Linked DNA regions of Homo sapiens. The protein of the gene in region 1 purifies or fractionates together with the protein of each later gene. This does not show direct contact. Each region holds a gene or a part of one and is shown in the gene's direction. Other genes may lie near its edges.

Region 1 (6,058 bases):
TCTGTTTGGGGAAAAAAAAAAATTCATTAGGTTCAAGTATTAAAGAAACTTGTGTCTACATTATACAAGTTGAATCCTTGACCCATTGTTTACTTGCTGTCAAATGACTGGGCAGTTTCTTTTCACTATAATTCCCTGCCAACACAAAACCATCGCGAAGATCCAGGAGCACAGCGAACGGGGGTCAATGCTATAGGGCTCATGGGTTGCAGGGGAGGACGACAGACCTCAGGCCCTTGCCTAAGTCTCCCCATCTCATAAGCTGGTCAAAGTGTCCCTGCCTGCTGACTCAAGGCCCAGACATTTATCCATTCCTCCCCCAACCTCTCCATTTCTTCACCTACTTGTTCAGTCAGAAATTCAACCAATATTAAATGCCTCTTCTCTACACACATATGCAACACATGCCAACTCTCAAGGAATGCAATTTAGTGGAGGAGAAAAAGCAAGTAAATATGCAGTAACAATGCAAACATGTGCCACTACAGGGATAGGTACCAAGTGCTAAGGAAACCTGCAGGGATGAACAACCAGCCCAGCTTCGGAGGGCAGAGAAACCAGCCCAGCTTCGGATGGCAGAGAAAGCTTCCTGAAAAAGGTAGCTACAAGAACAAAGAGCAGCAGGCCATGCCATCAGGTGGGAGACAGTGGTGAGGAATGCCACAGTGGGTGGAACAGCATGTGAGAGGCAGGAAGAGCAAATGTAGCCAGTCCAGAGGGCTGGAATGGAGAGCAAGATGAGGAAAAAGTGAGAGCTCACCCCAACCTGAAGCCAGGCCTATGGAGAGCCCTCAGGTGCTCCTGGATGCCTCCTCTAAGAGTCTGGCAATTCAGAAACAAGAATGCCCCTGTGCACCGTGAAGAATTCAAGTCTTGATGAAAGGACTCTTCTAGACACATGCCATCAATGTATCTGTTGATTTTAGCAGCAATGGGGAAGCTAATCAATACTTAATTTTAGAAAAGTCCTAAGCTATGTGAATAAGGCAAAGGACAGATTAGGTCTGCATGCAGGCAGATTTCTGTCCAGCTGAAACATCAAACTCCTGTGTGATGAATGAAATATAACATCACATATAAAAAACTGATGAATGTGATTCAGCCATAAGAAGTCCTATCTAGTGGACAGATCAATATAATTACCTCATAAGAAGTTATTACAGCGGGAGAAACTGGACCTGGCTTTACCTTGAGTTCTTAAGCAAGTAACTGGCCTTCAATTTCTTCATCCACACAAGAAATAGTTGCTATGGTTGTCTCCAACACTTCTAAAACCCATCATTCTGGCAGGTTGTAACAATCAAAAGTATTTTATCACCAAAGGCAAGGATTTAAGTAACTTTTCTAAGCCACAGATTTACTATGGTTTTGTCTGAGAAAAAAAAAAAAAAGGATGGACCCCAAACTGTCTAAAATTCAAAAAAACAAATACATTTAAGTTCATGAACCCTTTAAAAAGTTGACAAACCATGCATAACCAAACATAAAGATAATTAAAATTTTAGGATAAGCAAATGAGAGATAATTTTTTTTAAGAAATGAGAAAGTAAAACAAAATTAACCTAACAAGGCAGGCAGCGATTCGTTGCTCACTTCCCTTTCTGCTGGTTTCATTTCCCTTCTTAGGTGAAAACACTCTTAATATGTAAATCAGTCCACTAAAGACTTCAGAGTCCTTTCTGCTAAGATTTGCAGAAATTTTTATGCAAAAGAAATTATTTCTAGACTTCCACGCACTAGAAAAGCAGACTTACAAAATACAGCAAACTAAAGTGGATAAATGTATGTGGCAAAGCAGAAGCAATTAATCAAGGATCCTACTTTTAAGCATTTAGAAATGTTTAAATAGTAAAAAGTGGAAATGTGGATATTCTATGATTTTTAATAACTTGGTAGTAAAAAGTGAGACTCCATTTAGGAGTACCTACTAAGTGCCAGGTACTATTAAGCACTTGGGATCTTTCTGGTTTAGGGCCCCTACAATCCTACTGGATATAGTATTATCTCTATTTCAACTGTACAGAAATGAAGTAGGAACAAAGGGTTAGTCAGAGTGGGTAGGTAACTAGACAAAGTCACATAGCTTATAAAGCAAAGAAGCTAGACTTTAAACCCCCTTTTACTCAATATCAAATCTTCTCTTTCCATAGATGATGCAGACTTCAAGCATCAAAGTACACAAACTGAAGAAACTTTATCCTTTGTATATAATTATCTTAAATATATGCCATCATTTCAAGGGGAGCTTATGCTAAGTGTGACTTCATAAACAAATCATTTGTGAAAGAGAAAAACCACATCCAGGGTAAAGTCATAAGGTGAAAAAGCCTATTTCAGAGAGCACTTCCTGAAAGAGACAAAGCAGCAATTAAAGTCAGCCCAGCACCAACTCCGACGCCAAGCGTTACACTGGAAACTACTTTTTAAAGCAACAAAAGAGTCTAAAACAAAATACAACATTTCTTAAATACACTGTTTCCAGAAAGAGCTATTTTAACAGAAGCAACTCAAAGATATCCCTTCGACAGAAGTGGAAGTGCTGAAAAATGCTCATCTCTCACACAGACTTTTGATGGACAGGAGGTAAGCAGCATTTAATTAACTTCATGATTATTGTCAAAAGTAATGCTTTATGTACTGCATTTCAAAAATCATTTCATTTTAATAATACAGGCTGGGCGCAATGGCCCACGCCTGTAACTCCAACACTTTGGGAGGCCAAGGCAGGAGGATCAGTTGTGCCCAGGAGCACCATAGTGAGACCCCGTCTCTATTAAAAAAATATATTTAATTAAAAAAATAAACATAACAAACTATGTTGGTGAAAGACCTTGAAATAGGCTATATAATCATCTTTCCACATTAATATGATTTTACATTTATTTTCAATATTGCTTTACATTAATACTAAATGTAATTTTTTTCAACTTAAGGAAAGAAAATGTTTATGGTAAATCATATGTATATTTAGGAATGTTCATCACATGTTTTCAATTACATTGTTTCATGAAATAACTTAATGGTTTTTAAGAAAAGAAAAGCTACAGATAATCATGGTATCTATAGCTTTTAAAAAGCTGACTTTAAAGTCAATCACTTTTCAATATTTATCCAAAAATTTCTGTGTTTGCAGAGCACAATCAATACTATAATGCCTTTAAAACACATGCATCACTCATTTTTTTTCAAACGTCAGCAAATGAATATAAGTATTGGTGACAAGCTACATAAAAACAGCTTGAGCATAACGTGGGAAAAAAGACTCAAGATGGTTTGTAAGTACAGGACTTATGTCACAAAATTGAAGGATGAGGATAGGTGAAGGGAGTCCTGATGCAATACTAAAAAAAGAAAAACAAATACAAAATTTCATTTATATTATAATTGCTACTATTTAATAAGAATGCATTCCAGTTAAAAATAAGATTTAAGCCTCCAAGATTACTCTCCTTTGAATGACACTAGAGATATAATTTTTCTCTGTAGCACTTTCCTCATTTGATAGAAATTAATATTCTAGTCACACCAATATTTGGAAAATTTAATATGTTTTTAAATATATAGAATTATGCTCCTAAATCATATTTAACCTAAATATTTGAGAAGGAAAGAAGGAGAAGAAGGGAAGAAAGGGAAGGGAAGGGAAGGGAAAGGAAGGAAGGCAGACAGGCACGTTTCTTGTGTTTAACCACAGCAATTGCTCAAGTTAATTCTTAATTATCAATAGCCCGTGATGCCACTGACCACAGACAGCAAATCTCCCCCATAGTTTTCCTTAAAGAGAAATTCTGGGCTGATTTCAAGACAGCCCACTCTGCAAAGTGACATTTTTGAAGGAAACTTTTCATCCACCTCCATATTACAAGGGGATGCCACAGATTCCATCTCATTGCAGCAAAGTCTATTTTTGAAGTCTGTTGTTGGTGTTGCATCATGGGGGAATGAAGTTTCACACTGAGGAGTCAATGATATTTGCAACCCCAAATAACCTCCTTTCCATTTAAAATGGACGGTTTTTTTTTTTTTGGTGATGGAAATTTATAAGTTTCTACATACACATCAAGTTACTGAATGACTTCTTATTAATATCTACTTGTCTTAGATACTCCTTTTTTGGATTTACTTTGAAAATTGTTAAAATTTAAATAATATTGAAGCTTCTGAATCTAGATGGAATGAGGATATGAAAGTTACTAACGGCACTAGCTTTTTTCAAGGTGCTGCTTTCTGTGAACCACTGAAGTAGAGCAGCTGAAATCACAAAACCTGGAAGACTTGGCTTTACGTACTCCCAATTGTGCACTAGAAAACAGCTCATCTATTGCTCTAACAGTCTAGTTCTTGATCTGCTGACCATGACACAAAACATTGCTGTTTCTCAACCTATGATAATTTAAAGAGAACATAAGGTAATAAATATTATGAAGTGTTTCCACTTTAAAAAAAACAAAAAGTTTAATAGCCAGCTACACAAGTCTTCATTTTCAAACTAGAGAATTACAAACTAGAGTTTTTTAGCAAAGTAGAGTTGCTGTGAATCATCTCATCAAAAGTTCCTTCATTTATTCATCAATTCAGTAAATATTTATTTATTGAGTACCTATTACATGCTCAATAGACAGTGGGGCTATAGCTGTAACAAAGGAAAAGTTCCCATTCTCTCTCAAATGAGAATTACTGTGAATGTTCAGTAGTTAACCAGTTGAATCGTTCCTTGATTAAATGCTCTCGAACTTAAAATTCACTGGCAGTCAAGCTGAGTGGGAGAATGTTAAGCATTTATTTTTTAACCAACGATTTTATTCTTATTTTTCTTAACTATTTTTACAGTTTCTAAGTATCATGCCTACCAACAAGCTGTAAAATGATCACCCTGAACAATCAAGATCAACCTGTCCCTTTTAACAGCTCACATCCAGATGAATACAAAATTGCAGCCCTTGTCTTCTATAGCTGTATCTTCATAATTGGATTATTTGTTAACATCACTGCATTATGGGTTTTCAGTTGTACCACCAAGAAGAGAACCACGGTAACCATCTATATGATGAATGTGGCATTAGTGGACTTGATATTTATAATGACTTTACCCTTTCGAATGTTTTATTATGCAAAAGATGAATGGCCATTTGGAGAGTACTTCTGCCAGATTCTTGGAGCTCTCACAGTGTTTTACCCAAGCATTGCTTTATGGCTTCTTGCCTTTATTAGTGCTGACAGATACATGGCCATTGTACAGCCGAAGTACGCCAAAGAACTTAAAAACACGTGCAAAGCCGTGCTGGCGTGTGTGGGAGTCTGGATAATGACCCTGACCACGACCACCCCTCTGCTACTGCTCTATAAAGACCCAGATAAAGACTCCACTCCCGCCACCTGCCTCAAGATTTCTGACATCATCTATCTAAAAGCTGTGAACGTGCTGAACCTCACTCGACTGACATTTTTTTTCTTGATTCCTTTGTTCATCATGATTGGGTGCTACTTGGTCATTATTCATAATCTCCTTCACGGCAGGACGTCTAAGCTGAAACCCAAAGTCAAGGAGAAGTCCATAAGGATCATCATCACGCTGCTGGTGCAGGTGCTCGTCTGCTTTATGCCCTTCCACATCTGTTTCGCTTTCCTGATGCTGGGAACGGGGGAGAACAGTTACAATCCCTGGGGAGCCTTTACCACCTTCCTCATGAACCTCAGCACGTGTCTGGATGTGATTCTCTACTACATCGTTTCAAAACAATTTCAGGCTCGAGTCATTAGTGTCATGCTATACCGTAATTACCTTCGAAGCATGCGCAGAAAAAGTTTCCGATCTGGTAGTCTACGGTCACTAAGCAATATAAACAGTGAAATGTTATGAATAATAAGGTTCTTTCATTTCAATCCCATCAAAATTCACTTCACTAACTACTCTGGCGTCAATGGATATTCTGTATAATACTATCAAGTCCCTTTTCTCTTGAAAAAATAAATTCATTATCTTCATTTTAAAAACTTATATAAAACATTTTTGTGAATTATTCAGAGAAAAGCATCTGATTTTTCTTTCCTAGTCAAG
Region 2 (4,502 bases), on another chromosome or scaffold:
TTAGTTGTGACTGCTACAGTAATCTCCTTCACATTGTTTTCTACAGTATTTTAGTTTCACCTGGTTTTGTAAGTCCTAATAAAGTTATAATTCTTTATATAATACACACTTAGATTTATTGACATGCTTACTAATTTCTTCACCAATGAGATAAACTGAACATTCCTTAAATGGCAAAATGAAACCCAGTCAGAAAAACCTTTCTCTTTAAATATTGAAGAGCTATTAAATCCATCCTATACAATGAAATATTATAAACTTCATGAAATGTTTAAAAAACAAATAAAAAATTGAATGAACTTTCATTGAGTATCTTGTCATATGGCTAACTGGCTTTCAGAGAATTGTGTCTTAGCAAATTAATCATTTATTAAGTTAGCTTTTGGGGAAGTAATTTTCAGTAAATTTGTATAAGTAAATTTTACTGCTTAAAACCAGTCAGCCTTTCTAAATTCTTGTTGCTAGCAATGGCAAGATCAGCAAGAGGGATGATCTTACCTAGAGCACACTGAGGTCTGTGAGACTACTAAGTCCAGCTGTAAGTGGGCACAAGGCCAAAAAATGGGCAATTTTATTTAAGTCAGGAAAACTCTATTCATTTGTTTTATGTAGATGGTAGAGAAAAGTTTCTCATGTCCATCTTCCATTCTTAAAGATGGATTACTTAGAGGAAAATGTAGGTTTAAAATGTGGAAAATGATTGTAATAATATAACCTAGAAAAAAAGATGTATAAAAAAGTGCATTTTCATTTCTTCTTTCTAGGTTCACATTTATTGCCAAAAGATGTCTACTCTCCTGGAAAACATCTTTGCCATAATTAATCTTTTCAAGCAATATTCAAAAAAAGATAAAAACACTGACACATTGAGTAAAAAAGAGCTGAAGGAACTTCTGGAAAAGGAATTTCGGCAAATCCTGAAGGTAAGAGTCTCTGACAAGACCAAAGATAGAGCATTTGTTTTTCTCATCAATAATCTAAGCAAGGGTTATTTTGAGCTCTTTGTGAACTATTTCTCTTAAAATAGGAAAAGAGTTAATCTTGTCTCAAAAGAGATAGATTTTATTTTCTTCCCCTATACCTGGATGTATATTATAAACATAAAGACACCCTCAGAGAAAAAAATATAAATATTTAAAAATTAATGTAAATTAGTTCTTAGTATTTTGGTATTTATAATATTCTCCCAAACATCAACATTACTAAGGGGATTTTTGTTAAAGACAACTAAGTAATGAATTATATACACTTCTGACTTTTAAAATAAGAAAAAGAGTCACTTACCCCATCAAATCTTGATACCTTACTAGTCTACATCTTTGTTCACATATAACACCTGAATGAGGATGAGACAAAAAAGTCTTAAAAAAAAAAAAGATTTTGTCCCACTTTTTAATACTCAAAGATCAGGTTCCTTAAATTAACTTTGAATTAATTGGCTGATAATGTGATTCTGTCTGATGCAGTCTCCCTCTGTGACTTCCCTCTGTACAGAATCCAGATGACCCAGATATGGTTGATGTCTTCATGGATCACTTGGATATAGACCACAACAAGAAAATTGACTTCACTGAGTTTCTTCTGATGGTATTCAAGTTGGCTCAAGCATATTATGAGTCTACCAGAAAAGAGAATTTACCGATATCAGGACACAAGCACAGAAAGCACAGTCATCATGATAAACATGAAGATAATAAACAGGAAGAAAACAAAGAAAACAGAAAAAGACCCTCAAGTCTGGAAAGAAGAAACAATAGAAAAGGGAATAAGGGAAGATCCAAGAGCCCAAGAGAAACAGGGGGGAAAAGGCATGAATCTAGTTCTGAAAAAAAAGAAAGAAAAGGATATTCACCTACTCATAGAGAAGAAGAATATGGAAAAAACCATCATAACTCAAGTAAAAAAGAGAAAAACAAGACTGAAAATACTAGATTAGGAGACAATAGGAAGAGGCTAAGTGAAAGACTTGAAGAGAAAGAAGACAATGAAGAAGGAGTATATGATTATGAAAATACAGGAAGAATGACTCAAAAATGGATACAATCAGGCCATATTGCCACATATTACACAATCCAGGATGAAGCCTATGACACCACTGATAGTCTATTAGAAGAAAACAAAATATATGAAAGATCAAGGTCATCTGATGGCAAATCATCATCTCAAGTGAACAGGTCAAGACATGAAAATACAAGCCAGGTACCATTGCAGGAGTCCAGGACAAGAAAGCGTAGGGGATCCAGAGTTAGCCAGGACAGGGACAGTGAGGGACACTCAGAAGACTCTGAGAGGCACTCTGGGTCGGCTTCCAGAAACCATCATGGATCTGCGTGGGAGCAGTCAAGAGATGGCTCCAGACACCCCAGGTCCCATGATGAAGACAGAGCCAGTCATGGGCACTCTGCAGACAGCTCCAGACAATCAGGCACTCGTCACGCAGAGACTTCCTCTCGTGGACAGACTGCATCATCCCATGAACAGGCAAGATCAAGTCCAGGAGAAAGACATGGATCCGGCCACCAGCAGTCAGCAGACAGCTCCAGACACTCAGCCACTGGGCGCGGGCAAGCTTCATCTGCAGTCAGCGATCGTGGACACCGGGGGTCTAGCGGTAGTCAGGCCAGTGACAGTGAGGGACATTCAGAAAACTCAGACACACAATCAGTGTCAGGCCACGGAAAGGCTGGGCTGAGACAGCAGAGCCACCAAGAGTCCACACGTGGCCGGTCAGGGGAACGGTCTGGACGTTCAGGGTCTTCCCTCTACCAGGTGAGCACTCATGAACAGCCTGACTCTGCCCATGGACGGACCGGGACCAGCACTGGAGGAAGACAAGGATCGCACCACGAGCAGGCACGAGACAGCTCCAGGCATTCAGCGTCCCAAGAGGGTCAGGACACCATTCGTGGACACCCGGGGTCAAGCAGAGGAGGAAGGCAGGGATCCCACCACGAGCAATCGGTAAATAGGTCTGGACACTCAGGTTCCCATCACAGCCACACCACATCCCAGGGAAGGTCTGATGCCTCCCATGGGCAGTCAGGATCCAGAAGTGCAAGCAGACAAACACGAAATGAGGAACAATCAGGAGACGGCACCAGGCACTCAGGGTCACGTCATCATGAAGCTTCCTCTCAGGCTGACAGCTCTAGACACTCACAGGTGGGCCAGGGACAATCATCGGGGCCCAGGACAAGTAGGAACCAGGGATCCAGTGTTAGCCAGGACAGTGACAGTCAGGGACACTCAGAAGACTCTGAGAGGTGGTCTGGGTCTGCTTCCAGAAACCATCATGGATCTGCTCAGGAGCAGTCAAGAGATGGCTCCAGACACCCCAGGTCCCATCACGAAGACAGAGCTGGTCATGGGCACTCTGCAGACAGCTCCAGAAAATCAGGCACTCGTCACACACAGAATTCCTCTAGTGGACAGGCTGCGTCATCCCATGAACAGGCAAGATCAAGTGCAGGAGAAAGACATGGATCCCGCCACCAGCTCCAGTCAGCAGACAGCTCCAGACACTCAGGCACTGGGCACGGACAAGCTTCATCTGCAGTCAGAGACAGTGGACACCGAGGGTCCAGTGGTAGTCAGGCCACTGACAGTGAGGGACATTCAGAAGACTCAGACACACAGTCAGTGTCAGGCCATGGACAGGCTGGTCACCATCAGCAGAGCCACCAAGAGTCCGCACGTGACCGGTCAGGGGAAAGGTCTCGACGTTCAGGGTCTTTCCTCTACCAGGTGAGCACTCATAAACAGTCTGAGTCCTCCCATGGATGGACAGGGCCCAGCACTGGAGTAAGACAAGGATCCCACCATGAGCAGGCACGAGACAACTCCAGGCACTCAGCATCCCAAGATGGTCAGGACACCATTCGTGGACACCCGGGGTCAAGCAGAAGAGGAAGGCAGGGGTCCCACCACGAGCAATCGGTAGATAGGTCTGGACACTCAGGGTCCCATCACAGCCACACCACATCCCAGGGAAGGTCTGATGCCTCCCGTGGGCAGTCAGGATCCAGAAGTGCAAGCAGAACAACACGTAATGAGGAACAATCAAGAGACGGCTCCAGGCACTCAGGGTCACGTCACCATGAAGCTTCCTCTCATGCCGACATCTCTAGACACTCACAGGCAGGCCAGGGACAATCAGAGGGGTCCAGGACAAGCAGGCGCCAGGGATCCAGTGTTAGCCAGGACAGTGACAGTGAGGGACATTCAGAAGACTCTGAGAGGTGGTCTGGGTCTGCTTCCAGAAACCATCGTGGATCTGCTCAGGAGCAGTCAAGACATGGCTCCAGACACCCCAGGTCCCATCACGAAGACAGAGCCGGTCACGGGCACTCTGCAGACAGCTCCAGACAATCAGGAACTCCTCACGCAGAGACTTCCTCTGGTGGACAGGCTGCGTCATCCCATGAACAGGCAAGATCAAGTCCAGGAGAAAGACACGGATCCCGCCACCAGCAGTCAGCAGACAGCTCCAGACACTCAGGCAT

What was found. Proteins that work in one complex are often made in the same cells at the same time.
Region 2: the proteins of GPR18 (region 1) and FLG purify together in Homo sapiens (affinity purification with mass spectrometry; 2 studies listed by BioGRID and IntAct, with this or other methods). This does not show direct contact.

The regions. Positions count from the first base shown.
Region 1 is NC_000013.11:99,254,679-99,260,736, reverse strand, and holds GPR18 (N-arachidonyl glycine receptor), read left to right. Parts: upstream 1-2,357; 5' UTR 2,358-2,583; intron 2,584-4,217; exon of another isoform or gene 4,218-4,409; intron 4,410-4,830; 5' UTR 4,831-4,864; coding exon 4,865-5,860; 3' UTR 5,861-5,998; downstream 5,999-6,058. UniProt on the Homo sapiens protein: G protein-coupled receptor (GPCR) that plays a role in diverse physiological processes particularly within the immune and nervous systems.
Region 2 is NC_000001.11:152,311,740-152,316,241, reverse strand, and holds part of FLG (filaggrin), read left to right. Parts: intron 1-764; 5' UTR 765-785; coding exon 786-923; intron 924-1,284; exon of another isoform or gene 1,285-1,494; coding exon 1,495-4,502.